Regions from separate parts of the Homo sapiens genome. Here region 1 is linked to region 2. Evidence: fine-mapped expression QTL. A gene starts in region 2. The other region holds a variant in brackets. All regions are shown on one strand. Distances are between the middles of the regions. Region 1 overlaps FBXO8 (F-box protein 8). Region 2 holds the start of CEP44 (centrosomal protein 44).

What was found.
Region 1: its variant is fine-mapped to the expression of CEP44 in sun-exposed skin (GTEx, PIP 0.97).

What each region holds. Positions count from the first base shown.
Region 1 is chr4:174,242,859-174,259,003 of GRCh38, forward strand. The region is part of intron 3 of FBXO8 (F-box protein 8); the gene reads right to left. Among named protein-coding and RNA genes, the nearest start is that of LINC02268, 31 kb to the left of the region's middle. The variant T/C (reference allele first, on the strand shown) is at 10,566.
Region 2 is chr4:174,275,619-174,291,763 of GRCh38, forward strand. CEP44 (centrosomal protein 44) reads left to right here and starts at 8,293. Exons shown (of 12, transcript NM_001040157.3): 1 at 8,293-8,325. It overlaps FBXO8 (F-box protein 8), which reads right to left and starts at 8,049. Exons shown (of 6, transcript NM_012180.3): 1 at 7,792-8,049. RefSeq lists an enhancer at 8,244-8,493 and a silencer at 8,258-8,525.

The sequences.
Region 1 (16,145 bases), 33 kb before region 2:
TAACAATATTTTAGAATTATTTCCAGTATTTAATTTTAATTGAAATGATTTAAAAACAATGTCAATTAAGCATTATTTAATAGATTCTTTATTCATACCTAAATCAGTATCTGAGATGTAGAACTAATGCTAAGCTACTTTTTAAAAATTGTGCAAAATAAACAAACCTACTAATAGTATACATTAATGATATCTAATTCTCTAGTTACATAATCTATGCCACTTTAATATCATTTGGTGATAGTTATAAATTAACACTGGTATTTGCCTCATGTAAACATCATAAAAATACACTGTTAGCCATATTCTGTTTTATAAAAAACACATTTTGAGAATTTTATATCTAATCTAACCTCAGTTCTCCCAAATCAATCAAATACATAGAAGCAGTCATGAGCACAAAGAATTTTAAATTCAATCCTGAAAATTGGGAACATAGATTGAAATAAGCCAACTCTATTGGTTTTATGAGGAAAAGAGGCATCAGGTTCAAGCTTGGGATTCCTTTGGAGAGGAAGGTTACTTTAGAAGGGCTACCAAAGTGAATGGTAAAGGAATAACAAATACAAAAAGACATGAGAACAGATTATAACTGTCTCTAATAAGCAAGCTGTAAGTCACCCAAATTCTTATCTTCTTATGTATTAGGTTGGTGCGAAAGTGATTGCGGTTTTTGCCATTAAAAGTAATGTCAAAAAACCGCAATCACTTTCGCACCAACGTACAATTAAATACAAAAAAATACCACAGCATGAGGTCTGTTGAATAACTACATATTTGTTTAGTAAGTGGTATAAACATTTTTAAAAATAAAATTTTAGAAGAATGGTACAGAGAAACTCCTAGACCACATAGCATATCAGTGACTAGTCAGGACTAGAACTCTGAGCAGTGTGTATGTGCATGGACATCTGTGCAGTGTCTCACATGCAAAGGAAATCATTAGTCTAGATATATATATATATAGTATTCTAAAGAAGGAAGGTTGTAGCTCAGTATAGTCTACAAAATTGACTATAAAAGTTTCCAATTTTGGGTGTCACATTTTATAAGGCATACTGACAAATTAGGACTTATCTGGATAAAGGAAATCAAGACCTGGTGAGATCGTTGAAGGCTGTAGAATTCATGTTATGTAAGAAAGAGCGGAGGGACATAGGAGTATTAGGCCAGAGAAGAAGATATACTTAGGAAAGAAGAAAAGATTAAGACTTTAGGATATCTAAAAGACTGTGTCACAAGGAAAAAGGAAAAGATGTGTGTGGTTGTAGTGAAGATATTAAGCTCTTTTGGGGGGCTATGGACCCTTTTGAGTACTAGGAAAGTCACAGAACTTCTTCCCAGAATAATGCACATACACATTTTTTAAAACAGAAATAGAGTTCCATCTAAGGACTGCAGGTTACAAATCCTTATCCTAGATGAGTATAGATGTAAAGTCAGGAAATCTCAATTATAGGCAGACAGATTAGTACCACATAAGGAAGGGAATGCTTGTAACTTTAGTTGAGCTGTTCAAAGACCAATCATTTGTCTTTGCTTGATTCAATTTTGTTGTTGTTGTTGTTGTTCTTACATTTTCAAAATAAGATTAAGCTTCAAACTCAGAACTACTTAAATTTGACCGTTTAATCTATACACATTTTAACTCCCATTTGCAACTCTGTTCAACTTTTAGAATTATCTAAATTGTTGCAGTCATAATGTAGTTCCTTTTTATTTGCATGTGGGGAGAATTCTAAGATAGTTTTGTCAGATAACTCTGAGATGAATCATGATGGTGTTAGTACTATCATGGGCTGAAACCATCATGATTAATCTCAGATACCTCCAAGCATAGAGATCAGCTCCTGTCAGGTGAAAGGAAACTACTGGCCAAAATATATTTTTAAAAAATAGTTTTAAAGGATAGTTACAGTGGGGTAAATAAAATTCCTCTTATTAAAATAGATATTAGGCCTCATATTTCTTGGGAAAATAAACTGGTAAATAATGTCCATGCTACTAATTAAAAATTTCCTAGTCATTTGATTTTTTTAAAAAAGTATCCAATTCACTTTACATTTAGATAGAAAGATGAATGCCTATAAGACTAGCTTGTAAAATAGATATATGTATATCTGTGCATATTTACATATATGCATCTGCTTTAAAATATTTTTTAAAACATGAAGCAATACATTAAAATTGTCCACATTTTATTTTTGAAACATATTAAACACAAGGTGTGATATGCAAGGTATTCAGTGATAGACACTGAGTAGTGTAACACAGAGTTTTGCCCTAAGAAAATTTAAAGTTTATCTGTGGCAATGAGACACATACATAAACATCTAGAATACACACGTGCCAAGGTACATCAATAATACATGGCAGTAGAAGAAAACCTAAATGAATGCTTATGAAAAGTAAGTGTTTCAGAGTTCAATGAAAGGAAAAGTCACTATGGGATAGGACGTTTGGATAAGGTTTCCTGCTAGAGATTAGACTGAAGTATTGTAAGGGGTTTAGACAAGGAATTTAAGGGGTTTAGACAGCTCTGAATGAGGGGAACACTGGAGAAGAATGTTCCAGTTAATACTGTATTATATGAGCAAAAGTAATATATAATTTTTAAAGACTATTTTTAGGAAGGCAGGGGAAATATTTTGGGTTGGAGAGTAAATGTACAACCAGACTATGACAGTGACAGAAATAGTGCTGAATTTTAGGGTAAGAAGTTTATTCTCTATCCTAAATCTAACTGGAAGCCTCTGAAGGCTTTTAAACCTGATGAAGCAATGGGCTATAATGTGAATTTGGCAGCAATATAAAGATAAATAATGAAAGAAAAATTAGATAGTGGGCTATTCAGCGGAGCACTCACTTAAAAAATAAAAATAAATAGATAGCGGGCTATACAACTGTATATGTTACATATATGTTACATATATGAAAATAACTTGATAAATATGCTGACTATCAAGCCATGTGACAGTGAAAAGTGAAAGACAGCTGATGGTTCTGGCTTAGATGAAGAGGGAAATGACTGACAGAAAAATGATGGACAGGTCAAAAAAAGTCAAAGAGGGTGTTGATTTGAAGAAAACAGTGATGAGTTAGCTTTTAGACATGTTGAATTTTAGGTGATGACAGATATAACTAGAAAGGCATAGTAGGCAGTTGGTAATGTAATAGGATATATTTTAAAAGTGAGGGTTGAAGATATAGATTCAGGATCTTGGATAAGAAGGATTAGTAAGGGAGTAATGAAGAGAATGATAGAATAATGTTCCAGAAGCCAAGAGCCTTCGAGTTAAAGAACAGGGTGTCTAGTGCAATTATGCAGTATGATGGAAAGAGCACCATTTTTAGGACAGGGACCAAGCCATGGTTCTGCAACTTAATGATGATATGAACATAAACAATCTACACAATCTTCCTGAGCCTCAGTTTCCTAATCAGTAAAAATCTCAGTGGGCTAAGTGCATAGCAAAAGGAACACAGCTAGTTTTCTTTTTCTTTCAAATAGCTGAAGGATACTAGAATAGGAAGAGGGCACTGAGTTTGGTGACTGGGAGGAAAGAAGTGACTTTCAAGAGGTCTCTTTCCACACTGTAGCAGAGGCTGAAATCCAAGAAGAAAACAAAAGAATGAGCTCAAGGTAAGGAAACTGAGTATTGTCCACTCACTTGAAAAATATATTAGTACAAAGGAGGAAAAAATGGCAAAATTAAAGGGAAAAAAGAGAAAGTATTTTTTTTTCAAGATAATTATGACCTACTCATGTTAGAAGACAAAAAGAGAGGTCAATGCAGACAGGAAAAGACTGATGTGCGGGAGATTTTGCTGCAGGGGCAGCAAAGCCGATAAAAAGAGAGCAGGGGAAAGGTCTGAAAATACTGCTGGAGTTTATAATGATTAGCCTGGGGGACAGCACAGTAGCACCGGCTCAGAGACAGCTACAGTAAGAAAGTGAAAAGCAGAAAACAAAGAACATGTTGGTTTCTTTCTTAGGTCTATCTGGGGAGCATTGGAAAAGAGAGGGCTGATTTGGATTCTTGGGCAAAGTGGTGAAGATTTCTATCAACAACGATGCAGGATATGACTGGATATGACTGGGAATTCACTAGGAATAAACTAAAGGAGTGCCAAGCAGCAGTGAGAATCTAGGTGAAGTTAATGTGAATTCAGCCCATCTCTTGTTAAGGTTAAGCAAAATCTACCATACATATGTTCAGAATCAGTAAATATATATTTGGGAACAGAGTGAATTCTAGAAAATTAGACATGCAAAGCCAAATGAAAAAGTACTGATAATTGGTACTGAAAGTACTGTCTACTGCCACAGACACCTGGCACACACATTGTGTAACAGTTGGTATCAATAAAAGTTACATGATGTTTTGTTTTGTTTTATTGGTGTCACTAATAAAACAAAACTGTCACATACTAGGGAGTACCTTTAATTTTTTTCCTAAAGAACAACATAGTAAAGAAATTTAGAAAAAAATTTGATTTAGCAAGTTTTGTTCAATTTCGTCCTTGTATAAAATGTAAAATCTAGTACAATGGCCACTACTTTTCAGGTCATCAAACTGCCCTTAGACCATTATATAATAGAAAGCCAATTGGATACTGCATTTAATTTTCTTTTAAAAAAACATTTTGAAGACTTTAAAAATAGTAATACTTAAACAATATAGCTCAATCTAGATTTCTAACTTTTCTTTCAACATGATAACCAATATATTATTTTTCAAGTATACATTTTAACCACAGTGAAACTAACTGAATATATTATTTTTCAAGTATACATTTGAGCACAATGAAACTTAAACTGAAATGTAACATTTTCAAACTGAAGATAATGTAAAAATTAAGTGACACAATATACGTTATTAATAGTAAAAATAATTGACACATCTGCAGGTCAAATGGGAACATCCCCATTGTTTTGTTTGCAAATAGCAGCAGCAATGGTTAAGATGACTGCTCTGATACTATTTCTTCTTTTCTACAGTGTTTGAAGAATTGCTAAGGTAAATGTAAAATCTATTAATTTTTATCAGTCCAGAAGTTCTCATTCTCCCTATTTAAGCAGAGAACATGTGCTCTATAGTTAAGGGAGGGTGGGCCTCACAGAATGTGAATAATTGACAATATTTATCTGAGGATATTTATTATGCAAATAAAAAATCAACACCTTGCTTTTTGGCTGCGGTGAAATAAGCGCAGAAGATTTCTTAATTAGTATGTTTAAGACTAGGTGTCTATGTTTTTATCCTGTCATTTCATTTCTTTCTACCCACTAAATTTTGTAATGTTTTCTGCTTTCTGTAATTTTCCATGACCTTCTATGTTTAACACTGACCTTGAGCACATACATAACAGAAATGTCACACATTGCTTTTATTAAGCTGCCTATAAATATAACAATAGTTATTCCTAATACAGTCACTAGATTCAAAGACTAAAGTAAAATCTATGCCCAGATTTTAAAAGTTGTCCTAGATAAAAAGATTATAAGAGTACTAAGTTTTCCTCTCACTGAGGAACCCATAACTAGGCTATTCACCAGAAGGCTCTGTGTTACACAGAACTAAGAGGAAAGGGGGCAGTGAAAATTGGGAAAGAAATGTAAAGATAGTTTTGATGTCAGTTTTAAGTCTAAATAGCAGATTTCAGTCTCCTTTCTTCCAGAGCAAGAACAGAGAGCACACACTGTCCACACTGAAGTGGGAGAATTAACAGCTGTGAAGAGAGAGTGCCAGTATCCTGTAGCCAGTTTTCTCAGTTAGCTATGAAACATAATACCATATTTTGTCTGGAGGATAATGAAGAGTTTTGATTTTACATTTACCTTTCGTATAATATTAAACCAGTTTATGTATAAACATTGTTTGAATTGGCAAGGATTTCAGCTAGAATGATTTATGGAAGACTTTTCAACATATTAAAGAGCAGAATGCTGAGGAACTGCTAAGGACAGAGATATATACACCTGAAATTATCTGCAGTTAAAAGATGTCAACAGAAAATCCCACATAAAAGAGTGATGGTTTAAGGAAAATCTAAATAAAAATAACAATTCCCTCCAATGGAGTCCAGGGAAAACACAGAGGAGGTATAGGACAGGTCTTCCTGCTTATTTTTCAAGAGAGAAAAAGCAATGGCAAACAAAATAACATGAACCTAATTTTCTAAAGTTTTAAATAATTAAAAGCCCCTATTAATTCGTTCTAATAGCCTCAAACAGAAAAAGAACATCTGTGAATTCTAATATCCCCCAAAAGAACCACATTAGTGACTGGGATGGATCAATATGATAGCTAAGAAAGTATTTCCTAAATAATAAATTACTACTATCAATTAAATGTAACAATCATTATTGTAATTATTATCAAAAAAGTTGCTGCTAGTTGAGTCACGCTTCTTGGAAAAGCCCCCTCTATCTCTAACCTGTCTCTATATTAGAAAAAGAAAGCATTCTAATCAAAATATGGAGATAAATCTCTATTAGGTTATGATTAATAATTGAAACTAATGAGAAAGTGACACATTTAACAATGATGCTAGCTAATTTAGAATTCTTGCTTTATAAGAATCACATACAAATACTGGATTTGCAATGTGCATATATACAACTGTTTAAATGACTAACCCATAAATACTAGTTTTATCATATTACCTAGATCTTAATATGTACATTTATAAATATATTTTAACAGCTCTGAAACAGTTTTAAAGTAAACAACATTTTTAAAAAAAGTCTACTAGTAGACAAGCAAGTTGGGATTTACATGGTAGTTTCACTGCTAGCACATGTATATACTTAATCATGTAACGTAAGTATCTGTTCATCCTGCCAACATTGTAGCCAAGACACATATTTTAATTTTAACATAACTCTGGACCCCTAATTATTGCTTAAATGTCAAAAAGATTAAACTCAGCAGCACTACTGAAACAAAATGTTACTGTATATGCAAAAGATTGCATATACATGTCAGAAAATACAATTAAAGACAAAGGGTATCATTTAAAGCTAGGAGATATTGATGTGACCAATACATACTTCATGAAGGACCATTCGTCAGGTGTCATATAGTTATCTACTAGAATCCAAAAGTTCAAGAAGAGGAAGAACGTCAAGGCCTAGAACAGTGCCTGGTTCTTGGTATTTTAAGTTGTTGTAGTTGTACCTTTAGTATAAACATAGAGTTACAGTTTGGTGAACACTTAGAGGCATGTTTAACATGTCTTATTTCATTTAATCTTCACAAGAACACTGTTATAAGTATTATTACTGTCCCCATTTTACAGATGGGGAAACTGAAGCACAGAGGTTAAATAACTTGCTCAGAGCCAACATTACATAAATTGTAAGTGGTAGAGATACTTAATAAATATTTGTTGAATGAATGTTTGAATCTACGTGTACAAAGCTTCCAGCTGACTTTCAAGACATGCTGTAAACTTCCAAGGATTATATAATTCAACCAAGGGAAAAATACAAAAACAACCCCCTTCCATAAAATGTATAAGCTGGATCAAATATTAGCGGCAGATAAAACCCCAGCACACTTTGAAATACCTCAAGTTATAGATTCTCAAAGGTCAGAGTCACCAATCCAAATAATCCAAAGTAGCATATCACTTTGATGCTATATTTAACTGCTAACAACCAAAAGAGATTTACAGAAATCTTAGGAATTTTGTTATAAAGAAGGCATCTCTCTAAAAACTTTATGATATAAAAGAAGAAAACGTTATATAGTTTTATGGATAAATGTACACTACAGTTAGCTGGTTTTAAAAAATGCACTTAAGGTAGTGTTTCCTTCATACTCCCATATTTGAAAAGCTGAAAGTAAGTTGATGGATGTCTTACAATTGATGACATCCAAGAATTGAGGAAATATTATCCTTTGGGTTTCTGACACAATACTCATATTTTGAAGTGACATCTACTGTGACACTGGTAACAATTGCTAAATTCATGAAAGACATGTAGAGGCAGACACCTTGGACATTAAAGCTGAGAACTTAAATCTAGAAGTAATATCAAGTTTCACTGAAACTGTGATCACAATAGATAAGGAAAAATATTTGGGAGGTATCAAGAGGGTCAGGTAGTGTATGATGAGAAAATAAAAAGCAAACAGATTTTTCATTAAAATGCACTTAAAAAGCTCAATGTACCACTGTAAAGTCTCTAGTTACAATTACTTAAATTGCTAACAAAAGTAAAATTCAAATAAAAAATTGTTCATTGTAGCATATCATATTTTAATATTAAAAATTTAAAAATGTATCCTAGGATGAAGACATTTTCCACTAATTTCAGTTTTTACCCTAGACAATTCACACTCAATGATACAGCAAATTAGTAGTTCCCATAGCACACTGAATAAAACAAGAGCAAAATACATCAGGTGGTTTGATTGATGAATAAACTATGGAATATTCTAGGGCCTGAATCTCTTTTTCAACCAGATAAAGATTAGAAGAGGGCCTCGGAAATTTGTCTTTCTTTCAAGTTTCTAAAAGGTTTATTCCGAGTCCACAAACCTCCTCTGGGAACTGATTCTACACCACATGTTGGAGTGACTCTGGGAGAAAAGGGAAAAGGAGGGTGGCTGGGATAGAGTATGGTTAGGGTAAGGTGTAAACTAAAGTTGTCCTAAAAGGCAAAGGGTAAAGCTGCCTTCTTAACCATAAAATCACCTGATGGATTAGATTAAAAAGAGATGGATACATACACACATACACACATGCATATCCACACATACCATATTACTCTCAAAAAAAAGAAAATCACCTCCAGTTTAGCACCATTTGACTAATTGTAGCTAGTCGCTTGAAGGTATTAAGTTGTCTAGGCAGAGGAAGAGGCTATTTAGTGTCTGAGAGGCATAATTTTTCACTTTGACTCTAATGCTGATCAAGGAGAAGGAGCCTGCCATAAACTCCAGCATTTTAGCTCCTATGGGTAAACAGTTCTTACAGAGGGGGGAGCTACTTAAGCCATATTTGGTGAGGGACTCCTCTCACTGTCATCTAGCTTCTTTTGCCCTGATTAAATTCCCTTCAGCAAATTTGGAGATAAATTGATCTGCTACTGAGAATTAGCAATGTTTATTTATGAAACAGGGTCTTGCTTTGTCACTCAGGCTGGAGTGCAGTGGCATGATCATGGCTCACTGAAGCCTCAACTTCCTGGACTCAAGTGATCCTCCCACCTCAGCCCCCTAAGTAGCTGCGACTCCAGACACATGCTATCATACCCGGTTAATTTCTGTATTTTTTGTAGAGACAGGGTTTTACCATGTTGCCTGGGCTGGTCTCAAACTCCTGAGCTCAAGTTATCCACCCACCTTGGTCTCCCAAATTGCTAGGATGACAGGTGTGAGCCACTGACTGTACCCAGTTAGCAATGTTTATTTTTAAAAATTTGCATTGAGGATTACATCTCAAACTCCTAAGAGTCTGGATAATAATAATAGCAATAATACATCAAGATGTTTTTGGTTATAAACAACAGGAGACCTAGTTCAAAATAAAGGGATACATTTACTTCAAAAATAAAATTACCTTGTATAACAAGAAGTTCCAAACTAATATGGCTCCAGGTTGTTGGGCTCACAGATAGCATCACAGACCCAATTCTTTCTTTCCAGTCTGCTATTCTTGGTAGGGTTACTAATACCCCTCATGGCTACCAGATGGCTGCACATGGTCATGCCATTATATTCTCACATACCAATGCCTAGAGGTGTACATGACACATGTACTTGTGCATGTGAGTGCATGCACACACACACACACACACACACGCACAGACAATACTACCTCTTTGTGTCTCTTTTTTAAACCTAAAAAATAGGCTAGGTATGATGACTCATTCCTGTAATTCCAGCACTTTGGGAGGCCGAGGCAGGTGGGTCACTTGAGGCAAACCTGTCTCTACTAAAAAAAATATTAGCCAGGTGTGGTGGCATGCACCTGTAATCCCAGCTACTCCAGAGGCTGAGGCACAAGAATTACCTGAGCCCGGGAGGTGGTGATTGCAGTGAGCCAAGACTGCACCACTGCACTCCAGCCTGGGCAACAGAGTGAGCCTCTGTCTCAAGAAAAATAAAAAATCTAAAAAATCTTTCTCTATACACATATTTTCCAACCTCATGAGTCAAGAGATAGATTACACGGATGCCATAAAAGCATCCTTCAAGGTGAATGGAGCTTGGAATAAAGAATCCATATTCAACTCTGGACCCTAGGAATGAGCCAGCCACACAACTGGTTGAGGTGCTTTCCCTAGTGAGGAGTCTAAATGGTGAGTTATAAGCCTTGGCCATGTAGGCCCAGTGTGATTTTTAAAAAATTACTTTTATCATAGGATATAGTGCCACTAGAAGGAACCCCAAGACATCTCTTGAGTTCCACCTATATCCTTTTCTTTTGCCACACTGTGTAGTAGTATTTCCCTCTGGTTATCAGGCTTAACCACTTCAATCACAGCATAACCACCTCCCCTCCTATCCCGTCTTCCTCCCTTTTAAAATTTTGATATGTTTGCTTAG[T/C]AGCAGGAAGACCTAAACTGGCAAGAAGGTAGGGTCAGCTACCAACCAAATTGTTGTGCCACAGGTGCCAATGTTCCTCCTTTGGATACTAAGGCCTCTAACCCAGCAGAGACCAGAAACAAGGAAGGCTGAATCACATGTTTTAAGTGTATCACTAGTTAAAATGGCGTTACAGATGCTTGGATGCCTTAACAAAGGCCATTTCCCTGTTTTTCATTTCTTCTAGCATCCTAGCTGCAGTTGTTGAATTATAAGTCTAAGCCAATCATGTAATCTTTCTATTCTATTCGCTAGTGCTCTAGGGGTGCTCGTGTGATTCAATTATGTTCTATAAGAAATGAGTAGAAGTACGCCAAAGGCTTCTCAAAAAGATTTTTCTCCCTAATAAGTATAAGGAATATGAGGAGAAAGCTTCTTTTTCTGCCTCTCTTTCTTTGTACTGGGGACACTATTATGGGGGAAGTGATATTTTGAGTTGTGGTAGCATCTTGCTATCAAGAGAGGGTGAAAGTCAACACACTCAGGTCCATCAAGAGATCATCATCTCACTAAAGTAACTGGGATACCTGCATCCAGGACTCTTTTGAAGTAAACAAATGTAAAGGGTTTAAGTCACAGTTTAGGTTCTCTGTTCCTTGCAGCCAAAAACATCTTAGCTGATACATACAGGGAGAAGTGGGTACTGCAAGAAGCCAGTCATAAAATGTGGAACATGCTGAGTCGAGCAGCATAATGAAGGGTGCTGAGAACTCAATTCTTCCTAGCTAGATCTTAGTTTATATCACAGCCAAGAATTAGAATTTCGAGTTTATCTTTCTCTTTCTTTATGCTATCTGGCATTGTTTGAAGTATGTGTGTCTTACTGTCAACTTGGTTCACATTCTACTACCTGTAAGTTTATTCCTGAGAGATTCACTTTCAGTAGAAAGATAAAGCCAAATTTCTAGATGTATAGAACTAAGGATAAAACCTCAAAAGGTAGTATATTTTCTAAAGTAAAAAGTATCTTAGTGGCCTGTCAGCTTTCATTAGGAATACTTCTGTGTTGCAGGAGGTACTAAGATTTAAAAGAGTTAGTACAGAGAATGCGATACCAAGTAAATAATGATGAATGGTCTATTAGTTACAAATTATTTGACACAGATATATTTATCAATATGTACAGGCAGTTATTTGAATTCAATATTGCTTTCAGGTTTATTGCCTTACCCTTACTGTCCAAAGTAATACTTCCCTTTCCAAATCAGATGGTAATCAAAATATAAAATGGAAAAATCTCTCAGTCTGTCAAGACTCAATTCAACTCTCAGGGTTTGTTTGTTTGTTTGTTTTGTAGTAAGTACTATCAGACCAAAGGAAAGAAAACAATTACAGACCCACAGACTTTGATAAGAGAGAAGATTACATCAGATAACTGCAAGTGAACAACAGGGTATTTCAACCATTCTAAAATATTTATTTATACACAGTAGGATTACAGATAATCTATACTAGGTTATTTCAAAATGTATTCCCTGGAATGTTTTTACCTTCCTCCTCCCAAAAAAGAACACCACGTCAAACAAAATTAGATATATATTGCATATAACATCCCCCTTGTTAGATAGTCACGATGTACATCAAAGTATTAACGGCTTTGAAAAGTTAGGCTGTAAATAAGCCAACTAATCATAATCTATCATGTTCAAATTAGACTTAAGAATTCCTTTTTAACTGTGTATTCCCAAGGAATGCACTTGGGAAATGTTTATTGGTACATTCTAATAATGCCCATGAGGGTTTTCATTCCCTAGGAATAGAAGTTAAAGTTATTTTTCACCACTGTTGCTACGCTATGAAGTAATGGTAATGACGATTTTGTTGTTGAATACTGGAGCAAAAAGTCATTAACATATATCTGAGATACTATTTTTAAGAACTGAATGTAAATTCCTGAAATGCTTTCTATAATGGAGAACTACAAATTTCCTGTTTATACTTTAGCTGGTCCAATAACAAAAATAACATGTTATCTTGAAAATAAGTTGCATATTCATTTCTACCTCAAACATGTGGATAGGTCAAATTTAAAATATTTTTATAATAGATTATTTAGTAAAATGTATAAAATTATACACATGTGGATATTTCTGCATAAATACCAGAAAAATGTGCTTACATAGTCATTAAAAAAAAAAACTTGTTATCTGACCCCAATGAGGATATTTAAAACAAAAACTGTTTAAAAACACAATTACACAAACAAAAATAAGCCTATATTAAAGTTAAACCATGTTCACTACCAATTTTTCAGATCCTAAATTTAAAAATAACTACGTCAAGAAAGTGTTTTAATATACATTGGAGCACAAGTAATATAGTTTACTGGTTGTTAAATAAAATTACTTCATTATACTACTGCTAGTGGAATAAAATTGACACACACAACTTGTACATGCAGGGAAAATACAACTTAATGTAAACAGATGGTTTTCAGCACATTCCTTTACTAGAATGTGGCCACCTGCCACAAAGTACACAAGCTCATGCACAAGATCAAGACGTTACATACAGCTGAGATCACAATGTCATGCATAGTACAACAGCGTGCCAGATTATCGTACCACAAACTGTGCAGATGTTCTCCCCCACCCCATGAGCCACTGCCAGCAGCTGCTGTGGAGCTTGGTTACCCATATCCGTGACATGAACGGTGTCCTTTGGAGAATCTTGTTCCCTGTGGCTGTAAGTATTCTTATTTTTATAATATTTTAATGATGTTTGCTATCAAAATGTTAAGTACAATACTGGAAATTATGAAAAAGTAGACTTTTTACAATACTAAGCAATTATATACATCTTATCTCAGGTACTTGCAAAAAGCATCACATATTTAAACGTATCATCAAAACTAATTTACTGCTCAGAGTTAAATGAACCTAAAATAATATATCTGATGACAGTGCTCCAGTGAGTGGGGAAAAAGAAAACAAAATACAGTCTCCAAAAAGTACTGCCTAATTTTGAGCACTCAAAAAACTTGGCAAGAGTCATTCTAAAGTCTGGCTAAAGTATGACTCATACAGATAAGTGCTATATAAGAACATTTATTAGGATGGATCTTTCACTTACATGATTTCAATTTTGAATACTTGACTTGGTAAACAATTAGCCAAGTTAACATTATTTATGTTAGTCAATGAAAGAAAGTACAGAATATAGTCACTGAACTACTTCCCCTCATTTCTCTGACCTTATTAAGTGTATTGCAATGTCCTTTTTTTCCTATATATTTCCTAAGTGCATTCTGGTAAAGATAGCATTTTCTTTTGCTATTAGGTAACATCTGCTAAATTACATGTTCATAAAAGCATAGAATCAGAATTTTGGAACCTCAAGACACATTGAGTGGCTCAGCTCTATGCCTCCTGGGAGTACTACATGGCCCTTTTAGAATGATAAATTCAGTGCCTCTGGAATGTTCCAGAGTATCTTTAAATCAGGCCAGGGAGTAAAAAAAAAAGAAAATACAGCCAACTCTCAATAACAATGGAAGGTAGGATAGATAAGTAAAATCTGAAGATCTAAAAATCTTATTTTAATTAATAACTTAAATCCCCTCCCTTAACAAACATTTGACTTATAATTTTAAAAAATTATGTCAGATATAAAAACAACTTGAATTTGAGCTCTTTTCTCTGCCCCCTCTCCAAACACCCTAGAGGAGGTACTAACAAGAACTGTATAGTTTGATATTGGTAGCTGCAAGGATGAAAACCTATTTATATGTCTAGCTTTTCCAAATTAGATATTTAAACCTATACATATAACATTTTAGCATATGAGGACCCATGTGTATTTTCATCTTTGTGTAAAAATGATTGCTTTATAATTTGTTTAAAAATTGGCATTCCTTTAGCAAGGAAAGACTACTTACCATAATCAATATCAGCAATTACATCCAACTTTTCTGACTCTGTAACAATCTACAACTTAGTACTTACCAGGTTACATTTCTCTTATAATGTAACATTTGAAAGTGATATGAATTGAAGATGACAGTTTTACTCAACATCAGAATAATTCATGACAGGAGCCAGCATGCCTTGATTAAATGGGCATAATAAGACTGGGGCTTAAAACAGCTGCCTCTCCTGATTCTTATGTACTGTACAGTACAGCACTGTACCATTCTGCCTCAGTTTTACTCCAGCAATCATCATTCAATTACCTCAACAGACTGATGCAAAATATATATCTTTATTGTGACTATTATTAAGATCATTGAGACAGGGTCTCACTCTCACAGCTTATTGCACTCTTGACCTCTGGGGCTACATATCTTTATTATGATTATGATTATTATCATTGAGACAGAGTCTCACTCTCACAACTTACTGCGCCCTTGACCTCTGGGGCTCAAGTGGTCCTCCTACCTCAGCCTCCGGAGTAGCTGGGACCACAAGAATGCACCACAATGCCTAGCTAATTTTTTAAAAATTTTTTGTGGAGACAGGACCTCCCTATGTTGTCCAGGCTGGTCTCAAACTCTTGGGCTCAAGTGGTCCGCCTGCCTCAGACTCCTGGAGTGCTGGGATTACAGACATGAGCCACTATGCCTGGCCTGAAAAATATATATTTTATTATAAAGTTCATCATATGAACTGTTTTAATTAGCAACAAATAATGTTTAAGTCTAAATAAAGAATTAAGAATAATAAAGTCTCTATAACTGTGCCATCATTTGAATATGTAAGTGCAGCAGAATCTCTTGTAAGAGCAGGTATGCCACAGTGCAGGATAAAAAAAGTGACGTTCTTATGTTGCCATATGTTTACATGGACAGTAACTGGGATTTGACCAAAAACAAGGTGAAAACAAGTATATTTTATAATAAAAGGCATGAGAAAAAATGTGCAATAAAGGCACAATAACAACATTTAAATTTATGATAAATAGTTTATCCATTTATTTGCCTTTCTGAAGAATGATCATTTGATTCTAAAAAGCAATATTATATTGGTAAATGTGTAATTTGAACTTCGTATAAATCATTCTAATTTCATTAAGGTATCAGTTTGCTATTCATTGACAGTAATACCTCTTTAAATAGTGATGAAAGAAAAGAAATATCTGAATTTAAATATTATACCTGGCTTTACAATATATATACTTTGTTATATTTCTGGAGATATGACTTAACTGGTAAGAAGTGTATCAGTAAACCTTTGCAATGGCATTTTATTTTATTTTAAATTTATGTACCATAAAAATTTAACAAAAAATAAACCATACATAAGTAAAAATCAATTGATTAGAAAAAGATATTATTGGTATTTTTATATGCATACGTATAAAATTGGTATTTTTGTTTAAGACTCAAATATTTTACATAGGAGAAACATTTCCCTAATTATAACAAAGTTAAGATAACTTTAGAAAATACTTGGCTGTATGATTTGAACTGTCATTAATACCTCGACAACAAATGAAAAAAAGTTGTTTTTGAAAATTAGGTAAATTAAAATAATGCTGCAGATTAAATTTTTCCACAAAAAATAATGCACCCAAAAGTAGTAGTTCTGAGTGCTGTATAATTTT
Region 2 (16,145 bases):
ACCTTAATAAAGATGTTTTATAAAAAGGAATTAGAAACTCTAATGAATGCTTTAAAGAGGGTGAGCAAAGACATGGGAAGTCTACCATCATTTCACAAATAGTAACTATTTTAGATTTTGGGAATCCAACTAATTGTGAAAAATCTACAACCTATGAATCATCTCTCACTTCAGGTAAATTTGAATACATATGGATCAAAAGAAGATGGAATTAAGGAATACAAATCCTTATAGACACAAATCCTAAATGATGTTTTGACCACTTACATAGGATATATAAACAACAGAGTAAGGTACAAATGCAAAAAGGATCGATATTTGTGTAACTCTTAGTCTAATAAAAAAGACAATGTACATATAAAATACATTAATTAGAAAATTGGTATAATTACTTATTTAAAAACAAAGTAATAAGCTATATGAATTAATTTGGATTGCTACAAATATTATATTTCTAATATCTGTAGAAAAATGCTTCTACTTATTAAAATACATTAAAATTGGTAAATTTTATTTAGAATCTCCTATATTCTTATATGCCCTTGTTTCCATTAAAATAACAATAGCAATATTAACAGTAATACTTTTATTACATATTGACCAAATATTTATTTGACAGAGCCAACTTGTTTTTTCTGAGTTGGAGTCTTGCTCTGTTGCCCAGGCTGGAGTGCAGTGGAACAATCTCGGCTCACTGCAACCTCTGCCTCCTGGGTTCAAGCGATTCTCCTGCCTCAGTCTCCCGAGTAGCTGGGACTACAGGCGCGCACCGCCATGCCTGGCTAATTTTTGTATTTTTAGTAGAGACGGAGTTTCACTATATTGGCCAGGCTGGTCTTGAACTCCTGACTATGTGATCCGCCTGCCTCGGCCTCCCAGAGTGCTAGGATTACAGGCATGAGCCACTGTGACTGCCTGACAGAGCCAATTTTTAAAAAAAATTTAAATATATTTAGATTTTGTTTTGTTTTGTTTTTTTGAGAGGGAGTCTCGCTCTGTCAACAGACTGGAGTGCAGTGGCGTGTAGATCTTTGGTTTTTAAAAATTAATTTGTCCACTTTCAGTTTTATTATGCTAATTTCAGCATAAATAAATAAAACTGAAATCTCTAAAGTGGGCTATATACTATAATCTCTGTTTTACAGTAATGTAGAAGTTTTTTGACACTACTACTGTGGAGGATGAATTTAAAGGTGGAGCTCCAATTACGCTGTAACTTGCTGTGTGACCTTAGGTATTTCAAACAAGGTTCTGATCTTTTGTTTCCTATAAAATGGGGGAAATCATTCCTATCTATTTTACAGGGTGGCTATGAGCCTTAACTAAGAGAATGTATATAAAAGCATCTTTTAATTGGTAAAGCAGTATGTAGTTTCTGAAACAGCTATATTGTTCTGACATAATTTTGGATGTATTTTTTTTAAAGTAGCAGTTTTAGTCTAACCAAGTCTGTTACAACAGCATAAAAGCGCTTCCACTTAAAAGCAGTACAAACTATGGATTAACTACAAATAATTACACATTTATTAAAATTTATAAGAACAATAATAGTTTTCTATACTTTTTAACTTCTAGAAGATCGTTACATTTCTAAGAGATGGTATTTTTGACTACTATGTTTTGTTTCCTATTCAAAATAGTAGACTATTTCTTAAAAAGACTAAAATACAAGTTTTATTAATATTTTGTATCTAATACAAAGTCTATCTGTAAAATATTAAGCAGCTTTAATCAAACTATCTCTCTGTAACAAGTTAAACACCAAAATAAAGTAGTATTTATTAAGAAAAAGGTAACTACTGCTTATAATTTCATGGCACTAAGCACTCAAATGGCACATGCTGTGCAGACAATAAGTAATGAAGAATGGTTTATATACTATTTGGGCATATAAAATCTACACAGGGAAAGATGGCAAGAATAGAAAGGAGTCCGGATGTCTCAAAAAAGCATTCTGCTTTAAGTACTTTTGTTTGAAGCAAACCAATTCCATAAAGCTTTTACTGAGCAAACGGTGTTAAATCATTGGTATGTAATGACTGACATATGAATAGCCTCATTTAAATACACATTATAAATGGTCATTTTTCTTCAGTATTTCTTAGTTGTCTAAATAGTGGAATTTATAAGTAAATGTCCTGTCTCAGATAAAGGTTTAAAATGTGTGCTACAATAGTTATCTCTAAAATACAAATTCTAACGATAAGGAAATCCACTTATATGTTTTTATAAATTTTCAGTGCTTTTAAGTAAAAAGTAGCAACTCTATTTTTGGTTACTTCAGGTTTTAAAAATCTTTAAGGGATATCATGTGATATTATTCAATAGCATAAGAACATGGGAGAGTCTATGAGAAAATATTTTCTGAGACATTTTGAATCAAATCAGGAGCCTAGCATTTATTTCTTCACTTCCAAAAGAATAGACCACCAAAGAAGTTTAGAACAGACTGCGTAGAGAAATTTTTTAAAAAAGAAAAAAACCCTGATAACCAATCACATCCCTAAAATTTAAAGGCAACAAATGTAGAGAAATAAAGGAAGGGTAAGTCCACAAGGAGGTCTTTCTAAGGAGAAAAGGGAAATAGCTAAGTACTAAGAGGTCACAAGGTACATTGAACACATAAAAAGCCCCTACTCATTAAATTTAAAGATCTGGTCCTGCAAGAGCAGTTTTTGTTACTAAAAGGCATACCATTTGCAGGTTTTGGTTTTTTTTAATTCAAAAAGATTTACAATATTACTTTGTTCCCTGAAGGTTTTTTTCCTGTTAATTTTATTCTATAAAAAGTGTTACCAAAATGGCAACTAAATAAATGTAAAAATTAAGATGTGTTATTTAAATGCAACCAAAAATCTAAGAATTTTAGGCTTATTCAATTTCTGTGGTTTGTTTTTCAAGAAATGCTCCATTGTCCAACTATTTGAAACTTTAAAATAAATGTATCATACTTCTCACTAGCATTATTTTTAATTATATGGTTCTTACTTAATTGTATCACTATTTACTTAAAGTGGCTGTAATCAGCTGTAGTCATGGTAGCATATCCTAACCCACCTTCTCAGTATACACATACTCACCTGCCCACTAACCACAAAGGCCATTGCTATGAGTGCTATGGAATTAAAAACCAAAACAAAAGTCATAATTCTCACTGAGTTGCTTTTATACAAATAAAACAAGGTATTAAATTAAATGAATATTGAAGGCAGCCAGAAATAGGAGGAAGGTGAAAAATGAGAAAACATTTAATAGTGAAAAGAGACTGATGGAAAGAAAACATGAGTTTGACTCAGTCTCCTTCCTTAGCTAGTAGGGAGCATCAGCCAAGTCACTAAAATTTTGAGGTCTCAGTTTCCTCCCCTGTAAAATAAGGGTTTTGAAACTGGTGTTCCCTAAGGTCTTTTTTAGCTATAAAATTCCATGGTTCCAAGAGTAATTAGACAAGAAAAAAAGTAAAAGACAACCAAATTGGAAAGAAAGCAGTAAAATCCTTTGTAGTTACCCTAAAGATTCTACCAAAAACTTACAACTAATAAATCCATTCAGCAAAGTAGAAAGACATAAAGTCAAGACACAGAAATAAGTCGTATTTCTATACATTTACAATAAACAATCTGAAAAGGAAATTAAGAAAATAATACCAACTACAACAGCATCAAAAAGAATAAAATACTTAGGAATTAACCAAGTAGGTAAAAGGCTTCTGGAATGAAAGCTACAAAACACTACTGAAAGAAGTGAAAGACAAATAAATGGAAGTACATCCTGTGGTTACAGATTGGAAGACTTATTAAGATGGCAATACCACCCAAAGTGATCTATAGATTCAATGTAGCTCCTGCCAAAATTATAATGACGTTTTTTGCATTAATAGAAAAAAATTCTAAAATCCACATGGAATCTCAAGGGACCTCTAATAGTCAAACCAAACTTGAAAAAGAACAACAAAGCTGGAAGACACTTTCTGATTTCAAAACTTATTACAAAGCTACAGTAACCAAAACAGTATGGTATTGGCATAAAAAGAGACATACAGACCAATGAAATAGAACAGAGAATCCAGAAATAAACCATCACATATATGGTCAAAAGATTTTTGACTAGGTGTCAAGATCATTTAATGGGGGAAAGGACAGTCTTTTCAACAAATGGTGCTGAGAAATCATATCCACATTCAAAAGAATGAGGTTGGAACCTTACCCAACATTATCTATGAAAATTAACTCAAAATGGATCAAAGACTTAAATCTAAGACATAAAACTGTAATACTCTTAGACGAAAAAACAGGGCAACAGGGCAAAAGGCTTACAGCACTGAATTTGGCAATGATTTCCAAATGCACAAGCAACAAAAGAGGAAACAGACCAACTGAACATTATGAAAATTAAAAAAAAATTGTGCATCAAAAGACAGTATCAACAGAGTAAAAAGGCAACCCACCGAATGAGAGAAAATATTTGAAAATCATGTATCTGATAAAATCTAATATCTATAATTTACAGATAACTCCTTTAACTCAACAATAACAAAAACATGATTCAAAAATGGGTAAAGGACTTGAAAAGACATTTTTCCAGAGAAAATACACTAACGTCCAATAAGCACAGGAAAATACAGTCAACATCACTAATCATTAGGGAAATACAAATCAAAAGTACAATGAGGGACCACCTTATACCCATTAAGATAGTTACTATCGAAAAAAAAATAAGTCTTGGCAAGGATGTGGAGAAACTGGAACCCTTATGTATTGTTAATGTGAATGTAATACGTATGGTACAGCCTCTGCGGAAACAATATGGAGCTTCCTAAAAAAAAATTAAAAACAGAATTACCATGTGATCTAGCAATTCCACTTTCAGGTATATACCCTCAAGAATTCAAAGCAGGGTCTGGAAAAGATATTTGTTCACCCATGTTCATAGCAGCATTATTCACAACAGCTAAAACATGGAAGCAACCCAGGTGTCCAATAACAGATGAATGGATAAGCAAAATGTGGCTGACACATATAAGGGAATGTTATGTGACCTTAAAAAGAAGAGAAATTCTGGCATATGCTACAACAAAGATGAACCTTGAGGACATTATGCCAAGTTAAATAAGCCAGTCAAAAAAAGTCAAATACTGGATAAGCCCATTTATATGAGGTTTTGGTTCTTTACCACTTTCCAGTAATATGAATACAAACACTTCCGGTTTCCAAAACTGGAAACAAAAGGTAGAATGGTGATTGCTAGGACCTAGGAATGGGGAAGGGGAATTATTGTTTAATAGGTATAGAGTTTCAGTTTTACAAGATAAAAAGAGTAATGAAGATAGATGGTGTTGATGGTGGCACAACATTATCAATGTAATTAATACCATTGAACTGTACACTTAGAATGGTTAAGATGGTAAATTTTATGTTACGTATATTTTACTACAATTTAAAAATTGGAAGAAACAATTCTGTGATCCCATAAAAATAAAATGAGGGAAAAAACTCTGAAAAACAAATTAATAAATAAAAGAAGAGATGATGGCGTGCGTGTGTGTGTATTTAACATCTGTCCTTTCCATCTCTTTTTTCCCTATATTCATGACTTCCACAAATCACTACTCCATATAGAGTCTCTCCAAGCTTGGCTTACTTGCTAAAATCTGGTTCCTTCATTCAAATAGCTTATGAATCCTATGCAATCTATTCTTGAAAAATACACGAACTGCTGACTAAATGGTTAAACTCCCTAAAGCTGTTGCCTAAACTCCAAACCACAAATATTTTTATCTTATATTGCTATAAAGTACTTGCACCAGCACAGTGGCTCACACCTATGATTCCTGAACCTTGGGAGGCTGTGGAAGGAGGATCGCTTGAGCTCAGGACTTCAAGACCAGCCTGGGCAGCACAGTCAGACAAAAAAATTAAAAGAAATAACCACACGTGATGGCGTGTGCCTGTGGTCCCAGGTACTCTGAAGGCTGAGGTGGGAGGGAGAATTGCTTGAACCTAGGAGGTCAAGGCTACAGTGAGTCTTGTTCGCACCACTGCACTCCAGCCTGGGCAACAGAATAAAAATCTGTCTCAAAAAAATACTTGCCCCAAATATGATATAAATTTATTCAAGTCAGCCAAAAATGTTTTAGTTTATTAGAGAGCTAAGTCAAGAAATTTGTCAGAAAAACAAAACAATGAGAGCAAAACGAAAAAGAAATAGTGAACATAAATTTCCAGAAATAGATGTATTTCATTTAAATTGTTTAAAAAATTATTTAAGTAAAATAATTCAAGAAAAAGAAACAGAAATTAAATGCATAATTCTTAGACTTTAGTATTAATGATTTTGATGCATTATCATGGGTCAGTCAATGGAATAGTGCCAGTTTCCAAATCTGAATCAAAATGAGGAAAAAATTAGTTGTACATTAGCAGTTGGTTAAATAATAAACCATAAAGTTACAAATCTGAATGACTAATTTCAACACACTGTGATTAAAGATTTGGTAATTCAATGTTTTTATATTGTAAAATGAGGAAGATATCTTTTAACCTAGCAACAGTAAACACACAAAACATTCCCCATTAAAGTGACCATATGTAATAAATTATGATCAATGTTTTGGCTTATCTAGAAGTTACTATAATATTTTGTGGATGGAAGTAATTGATCCAAGGGCCCCAAGTAATATTAGTTAATTTGCTGTAACTTATTATTAAATGAAGTTACGCTGCACCCTAATTCCTGATGTACAGAAACTGATAATATTTGTTGTTTTAAGCTGGGGTAAATTTGGGGGTAATTTGTTACCCAGCAATAGACAACTAATGAAGTACCTCATCAGACATATTGTCAGGTTAATTGGCTAAAGATGAATTTCTGACCCAATATGAAAAAAATAATAAAACTTATGCATTCTTTATTCTGAAACCTACTCTGTTTCACATATCATTTTCGTGAAGGGTAGAGTTGAGAAGTGTGTAGAGCTCCTACCTCAGAAATACATTACTTCAAACATTAAAAGAAGGAAGAGGAAAGCTGAAATAGAAAACATAAATTGTCTTCACTTTACCGTAATAAAAATCATGATATATTCATTTGTGGATATACACCTAGGAGCCTTGAAAATGAATATTTTACTTGTAAAACAAGTAGAATCAATTATTTTATTAGTAAATTCATACAGAACCTAAAAATAAAACTAAAAAAATTAAATGACTGAGGATTGGGATCCATTTATGTGATTTTGCCAAATAAATATTGAGAACCTTCTACGTAAGAGATTAGAACCCAGTCGCTGAGAAACAAATAAAAGACAAGTTTGACAAGTTTTATAACCCAAGTTTGACTACTGTAGCAGCTAGCAATCCATCGTGATCTTAACTATACTTGTGTTTGCATTCATATTACTGGAAAGTGGTAAAGAACCAAAAACTGTCTAGGAACCAAAATAACACTCGACCCGAAAACCAACACTTGGACCTGAAGAAAGTAACCCTTGTCATTTCTCAGGTTTATTTCACAATGACGCTGGGTTACTACTTGGAGTCCTAAACCGAACTACACCCCAATGGCCTAGAAACAGAAGGAACACACCCAGTTCCGCCTCCTGACAGTGATTCCTCACTTTAATGAGCCACCACTACTGTCACTCAAGATGCTTCGCACTGTCATTGGTCGCAAACTCTTGCTGGTCGGCCAGTTTCGGCCAACTGGCAAGCACTGGTTGTCTTTATTTTCGAGAAAAGTGAAGGTGAACAGGGAAAAGAGACAAGAGATCTAAAATATCTAGGTTGACTCCTGTACCTGAGCGACCTGCGATCTCCACCGCCGCCGCGACGAATTGGCCTCTGGGCGGGGACTTTTAGCCAAAAGGAAAATGGCTCAGCCGGGAACTGGTGCCCAGGCCATGGAGAAGCTGATTCAAACTTTACTTGTCCACACCGGTAGAGGTGACCGCGATGAGAATACCAGAAACAGCACTACGACCCTCAGAACTCAGGGTACCTCCAGCTGCAGGGGCCAGAACTGCCGACTATCCCAATTTTGACGTTTCCTATTGTTGCCGGAAGTGACGTTAGGCTCCGACTCTTAACGGAGACGCATTTTTATTTCTGTTGTTTACGATTCGCTATAGATTCCTTGTTTCTCACTTCGTAGCACGAGCCACTCTGACCATCAAGATCAGAAAAACTTCTCAGCTGCAAGTTAGAAGTGGACTGGCCATTGAGGAGGCTCTCAGCGGAGTCGCTCTTCACAGGAGTCTTGAACGCGGTGTGGAATCGGCAGCGAGGAATCCTGGAGCACAGAGAAGCTCCCAGCTTTGAAGGTCTTGCGGTGGTGCGTGGCGGGCAGGAACCCACAATTCCAAATACAAACGGTCGGCGCGAGAAGCGCTTCTGGGCGCAGGCGCCTGGCTGTAGCGACTGGTTGCGGGAGGCTGGACTCTGGTGACTGTGTATGGTTGCATATGCTCCGTTTTCCTCTCCCTGTCGTGCTGGGCCTTTGAAACCGGCTTCTTTGCTGGTGGCTGCTTGGTGAGCCCCGAGGAGACGGCAAGGCTGCGCCTGGTATTGGGCGGAGGTCGCCTCTCTCCGCCGTCCTTACAGAGACCCCGGGCGGAGACGAATGACCAGATCCGCCTTTTCATTCTTTTAAATCAAATGGCGGGAGGGGAGCCTTGCTTATATACCCAACTAGTATATGCTTTTAGTCACAACGAAGTGGGAAGTATCGTGGTAGCTCATCCTATCAGAATTAGGTTGTGACTTAGGGTTGGAAAGTTATAGGCTTACTGATTCCTATTGGATCCTCTGGGGTGAGGATACAAACGGCTCCTGACTATAAGGAAGACAGGACAGCAGTTCGTGTTTTCCTTGTTGGCATTTCCCCAGCTTTTCAAATATTTCTCCACCTTTATTGAAGGCTACAGATTTTTCCCTCACTGTAACAAGTTAATCTTGAAGTTGTTATTCTCTTTTACTCTGGAATTATGGCCATGCTAGACTGTTTTTTTCCCGAATTATCTGCAGACCTTTTAATTTTATGTGTGAACACAGCAGTCCCGTTGAACTCTTTACTTGTCCCTTACTCCTCCCCACTCCCGCCCAGCTTTCTCGATGCTTTGCCTTTCTCAGACCTTTCTCCTATCTCTTAGAGAAGTATTTCCCTAATATCTTTTGCAGTTTCATAAACTGTTTTTCTCATCTTTACTTTTTTGTTTTTGATACGTGTTTTTAGATAATATCGAGCATTATGTGCTATGTCACAAACTCTTAGCCATTGACTGTTATTAGAGTCAGTGTAGTTGCTTCATTCTAAACAAAAATCACTCTGGTCCAGTGACATTCTATTGGGAGGCATTGTTTTAATGACCTCTAACAGCAATGAGATTGAGCGATGTTGAAAATCCTAAACTGCTAGAGTACACTATTTTCACAACCTCTCCCACAAGTTCAATTGCGCAGATCTGACTTGTAGACAAGGAAGGAAGCTAGAAAGGAATATTGAGAGCTTCTTTATTATTGAATCTATGCTGCAAGCTGAGTGGTATCTCCTTTTTTCCTTAGTTTGCCTTTGATCAGTGCTATAAGTTGAAAATGTTAAATTTTTAAAAGTATTTTTCATTAATGAAAGTAAGGTGTTAAAATGTACATAAGTAATAGATTGGCTTCTTTTAATGTCTTGTTTTTAAGGCTTTTGAATTTTATAGTAGACTTAGTAAAGCCCTTTGTGAGAATGTAGAGCAGTAGCTGTAATTTTATTCTGTGATAATCCCAATTTTAAATCCCTTTATTTTTCTGTCTCCTATCACTTACCTCGTTCACGAGCTCTGCTTGTATTACTCTTCAAAATATTTATTCACTGGTACTGAAGAGAGACATAACTTTGTTGTCAGAAATTCCATTATCAGAGGTAGAAATCATGTAAGAGACACTGAAATGTTTTCCAAAATGTCAGAAAAAGGAAAGGTGAGAAGATATCATAAAGTGTTACGTAAAACAGAATTACTTGCACTGGGAAAATGGAATATACATCTGGAAGGACTAAAGGAAGTCTGGAAAGACATAGAATTTACATTAAAGTTACTGGGAAGAAGGTATCCCTAGAAGAATTGTGTTACGATAGATGGGTCTGGAACCCGAAAGAAGCTCAGACCTACTATATTGGCCAGTGGCAAAATCCAAGAATACATTTTTTGCGGTTAAAGCCAGAGTAGTCCTCACTTCATGTTTTTCAGGAAAGTAAAGGCTTATCTTGGGAAATCCCTTTTAGGCTTCCGTGTGTCCATCTACCCCCAGTCAGTCTAAAGGATATTAAATAGGGTTTACCTTCTTGGCCAGTGTTTTGTATAATGTGATTTCAGGATGACTTTCTCTTTTTCTAGTTATCTCCCATTTGACAGTACCTAAAATTATCTCTGTCTAGAAATGTAAATGTTTAGTTGAAGTAATTTATTGGCTGAAAAATAGTGACTAAAATGTGCATGCACAAGTCTATAAAGTATATTCAATAAGCTGTTGCCTACCATGTTGATAAAGGAGACTAGGAACAGAAAGGTAGGTTCATAAAGAGGGAGCAGTTGCTCTACCCTGGGGAAATGGCTGTGGAAATGAGTGGCGAGGGGCTTAAAGTAGGAAGCTTACTAAATTTAGGATTTTGTAAATCGGTGACCTTCTTACCTTTCCTTATTTAAAGATAGAGAAACGGTGTGTAAAGGGATGATTTGTATCCTGGACAGCTGGGTAATGCGAATTGGAGGAAAAGATCACACTAACCCAGCTTCACCTGATTTATGAATTGTTCTGTTTTCATTTTAATATAATGACTTCATTTTAATGTGATAACTTCATTTTAAAGGAGCTTCATTCTCAAAGGGTTCATTACTCAAGGTATTGTTATGTATTACTTTTCTTCTATGAAGTGTCCATGGACAGTTGTGGTAGATGTTTTTATGTAAGTTATTGAGTTTCACGTTACTGGCTGACTAGACTTTTATAGTTCAGAAACTTACCTCCTTCCAGCAAAGGTTCTTAATCGTTTATATACCTATTTATGACTCTTCTTTGGGAAAAATCTCCTTTGATAATCTAATGAAAGTCCCACTCCATGCAAGAAAATTAGTCATTTAGAAATAAATTCCATGCTATTACTTTTGGGGCAGTTTTTAAAAAATGAATCATTTTGTTTAAAGTCTCAGTTCGTTCAAATCTTTTGGTTCACGTATGTGTTTTTCTGTTGTGTACATTCTTCAGAGTCATATTCCTGTTTCATAGGCCCCATGTATGTCAGCTTTTAGTAGGTATCACCAGTAAGTTTTCCAAAATAATTGTACCATTTACTCTTTCTGTAAAAAGCATAGATATTTTGAATTTCTTGCCTTTTTTTCTGTGTTCACCTTTTCTTCTTGGAAGTAGACAGCTGGCTAACCAGCAGGAGTTTGGGACCGATGACAGTGCAAAACATCTTGACTGACAATGGTGGTGGCTTATTAAAGTGAAGAATCAGCATCAAGAGGGGGAATCGGTGTATTCCTTCTATTTCTAGGCCATTGGGATATAGGTCGTTATGGGACCCCAGGTAGTAACCCAGCTCATTCTGAAATAGAGCTGAGAAATGACAAGGATTAAGTGTTGCTTTTCAGGTAGAGTGCTATTTTGGACCCTTGGCACAGATTTTGGTTCTTTATTATGATAAGTACCAAGAAGGAAAAGAACTGGGTCTATTAGAGAAAATTAATGAGGGGGATTAATTAGTTTGGGATCTAAGACTTATTTGAGGTGGTGACATTTAAGCAGGATGCCGAGGGGTATTAGCCAGATGGAGAATGGGAGAGGGAAGGAGTTGCTCTGTATCTCTTCAAGCTTGAAGAAATGGCATGTGCAAAGGTGTTGAACAGCTTGAGATATCACCAAACATCCTTATCCAGGTCCAGGAACTTTATCCCAGATACCATTTCTGTTATTTGTTGCTTTCTATAATATTTTAAATTAACTAAATCACACACATTCTCTTTTTCATCATTACTTGGTAAGTGGAATGTTTTGATTTTCCCTTCTGGTTATGATTTACATGTATTAACTTATTAATACACGAAGATCAAAAAGTGACCAAAATTGTTCAAAAGGTACAATTTATTATAGGATAATTATAATTATTTCATGCTGACAATATGTTTATAAGTGTTTTGCAGTAACCTTTTTGTTTCTATAATTTCATGGTAAGAAAGAAAATGAATTAGGTAGAGCTAGTAATACCAGGTATAGACAAGAATGTAGTATTTAAAGCTAATATCTGAAATTCTCTTCTTGCATCTGCTAACTGAACGAGAAAATTCTGTGTGTGAGAATGGAAAACTTTGGGTGAAAAGTGAAAACTTGGATTTTGTAGTCCAGGCCCTTAATTAAGTAGATAACACACTCAGAAGGAGAAAATTTGGGGTGCTTTATATACAAAGGGACTATTTTTAGAGGTGTGTGTACAGGGATCTGGTGCTGCTTCATTTTTTAACCTGTTTATTGCGGTATGATTGACATACAGAAAGCTATAGACATTTAATGTATACAGTTTCTGTTTGGAGATAAGTAGATATTGTGAAACCATCCAACCATTATTACTACAAGAAATCAATGCCATCACCTTGAAAAGTTTCCTTCTACTCATCTTTTTTTCACGTTTTGTGATAAGAGCACTTAACATTAGATCTAACTTCTTAGCAAAATTTTAAGAATACAATATTGCTAATCACAGACACTGGGTTGTACCTGCAGATCTTATTTATTTTGCCTAACTGAAACTTTGTACCCTTTGAACAACAGCTTCCCATTTTGTTCTCCCCATGTTCCCTTACAACCACCATTCTATTCTCTGCTTGCATGTATTTGACTATTTTAGATTTCACATACATTGAGATAATACAGTATTTGTCTTTTTGTGTTTAGCTTATTTCACTTAGCATAATGTCCTTCAGGTTCATCCATGTTGTTGCAAATGGCAGGATTTCCTTCTTTTTTAAAGGCAAATTTGTTTATTCTCACATTTTTGTTGGGGTCCCTAAGGTTTTCTACATCTAAGATCATGTCATCTGCAAACAGATATTGTACCTCTTCTCTTTTTATTTGGATGTTTTTAATTTATTTTTCTTACCTAGTTATTCTGGCTAGGACTTAAAATACTACGCTGAATAGGAGAGGCTAAAGTAGGCAACCTTGCCTTGTTCCTCATCTTATGGGGAAAGCTTTCAGTTTTTTATCTTTAAGTATCTTAGCTGTGGGCTTCTCATAAATGGACTTTATTTTGTTTTTCCTTTACCTAATTTGCTATAAGGTTCTTCCATACCTAGTTTATTGGGAGTTTTTATCACAAAAGAGTATCGAATTTTGTCAAGTGCTTTTTCTGCATCTGTGCAGATGCCCATGTGAGTTTTATCCTTCATTCTATTAATGCAGTATATTACATTGGTTGGTTGTCATATGTTGAACCATCCTTGCATCACAATGAAAAATCCTACTTGGTCATGGTATATGATTCTTTTAATGTGCTGTTGTGTTTGGTTTGCTAACATTTCATTGAGGATTTTTACGTCTATATTCATCAAATGTATTAGACTGTAGTTTTCTTGTAGTGTATTTGTCTGGCTTTGGTATCAGGGTGATGCAGGCCTCAGAATGACTTTGGAAGTGTTCCCTCTTCTTTTTTTTTTTTTTTTAGATATGTTTAATAAGGTTTTGTATTAATTTTTCTTTAAATGTTTGCTAGAATGTATCTGGCTCTTGGCTTTTCTTTGTTGGGAATTTTTTGATTATTCCATCAATCTCCTTTTTTGTTATTTGTCTATTCAAGCATTCTATTTCTTCTTGATTCAGTCTTGGTAAGTTATATTTTTCTAGGAATTTACCCATTTTTTTTTAGATTGTCCAATTTGATGGCATATAATTGTTCATAATAGTCCCTTATGATACTTTTTATATCTGTGGGATCAATTGTGTCCTCTTTCATTTCTGATTTTGTTTGAGTCTTCTATTTTTAAAGTCTAGCCAAGGATTTGTTGATTTAGTTTGTCTTTTCAAAAGAGGAACTTTTAGTTTTGTCAATTTTTAAAATTGTTTTTCAATTTTCTATTTCATTTATTTCTAATCTAATCTTTATTATTTTCTTCCTTCTGCTAATTTTGGATTTAGTTTGTTCTTTTTCTAGTTCCTTGAGGTGTAAAGTTAGGTTGTTTTATTGAGACCTTTTTTTTTTTTTCTTTGAGACAGAGTCTTGCTCTGTCACCAGGCTGGAGTGCAGTGGCGTGATGATCTTGGCTTACTGCAACCTCCGCCTCCCGGGTTCAAGTGATTCTCCTGCCTCAGCCTCCCGAGTAGGTGGGAGTCCCAAGTAGGTGGGACTAGAGCCACGCACCACCATGCTCAGCTAATTTTTGTATTTTTTGTAGAGATGGGGTTTCACCATGTTAGCCAGGATGGTCTCAATCTCTTGACCTAGTGACCCGCCTGCCTCAGCCCCCAAAAGTGCTAGGATTATAGGCGTGAGCCACTGTGTCCTGCCTCTTTCTTCTTCTTAATGAATTTATTGCTATAAACACTTCTCTTATTCTGCTTTTACTGCATCCTATATGTTTGGGTATACTGTGTTTTTATTATTGTTTGTCTTGAGATATTTTATAATTTCTGTTTTGATTTATTCTTTGACCCAGTATTATTTAATAGTATGTTATTTAATTCCCCTGTATTTGTGAATTTTTCCATTTTCTTTCTATTATTGATTTCTAGTTTCATTCCCTCGTGATCAGACAAAATGTTTAGAATGTTTTTAGTCTTCTTAAATTTGTTAAGACTTGTTTTGTGACCTAGGCTGTGATCAGTTATAGAGAATGTTTCATGTCCTTTTGAGAAGAATGATTATTTTGCTATGGTTGGGTCTCATGTTCTGTATATGCATGTTAGGTCTTTGGTCTATAGTGTTGTATAGTTTGCAATTTACTTGTTGGTATTCTGTCCGGATGACCAGTACATTATAGACAGTGACGTATCAAAGTCTCCTTCTGTATTGTATTGATATCTATTTCTTCCTCCAATTCTATCAATATTTGCTGTTGGCATTCTGTCTGGATGACCTGTACATTATAGAGAGTGATGTATCAAAGTCTCCTTCTATATTGTATCGATATCTATTTCTTCCTTCAAATCTGTCAATGTTCACTGTATATTTTAAGGTGCTTTGATGTTGGGTGCATATGTATTTTTAGTTGTTGTATCTTTCTATTGAATTGACCCTTTTACTATTATATAATGCCTTCTTTGTCTCTTTTGACAGTTGTCGACTTAAAGTCTATTTTGTCTGATATAGATAGCCACCCTGCTCTCTTTTGGTTATAGTTTGCATGGAATATCTTTCTCAATCCCTTCACTTTTAGCCTACGTGTGTCCTTAAATGTTAGAGTCTCTTGTAGATAGCGTATAGTTGAGTGTTGTTTTTATTATCCATTTCAGCCATTCCATGTCTACTGAGAGCCCTTAATTATTAAAAATTTAAAGTAATAATTTTTAATAATTAAGTACTTAATTGTTTCCATTTTATTCATTGTTTTCTATTTGCTTTCTGTTTCTCCTGTTTTTCTCTTGTTTGTTGTCTTTGTGATTTGATGATTGTAGTAGAATGCTTTGATTTTTTTCTTTTTTTTGTTTATTTACTATACTTTTTATTTTGGTTACTATGGGGTTTGCATCAAATATTATGTAGTCATAGCAGGCTTTTTAAAGCTAGTAACAACTTCATTCATATTCAGAATCTCTACACTTCTCCCCCCTCTTCCTCACCAATGTATGTAATTGATTTCAGATTTTACTTCTTTCTATATTGTTTCTATTAACAAATTTCTGTGGTTGTTGTAGTTACTCATACTATTTTTGTCTTTTAATTTATATACTAGTGTTCAATGAGATTTACGTGCCACAGATTTCAGTATTGCAATATTCCATGTTTGTTTTCATGTTTGCTTTTAGCAGTGAGATGTATACTTTCATATGCTTTCATACTGTTGGTTTAGTATCTTTTCAGTTAACTTGAAGATCTCCTGTTAGCATTTCTTGTTAGGGCATGTCTAAAAGTGACAAACTCCCTGAGTTTTTTAATCTGAGGAAGTTTTCATGTTTTCT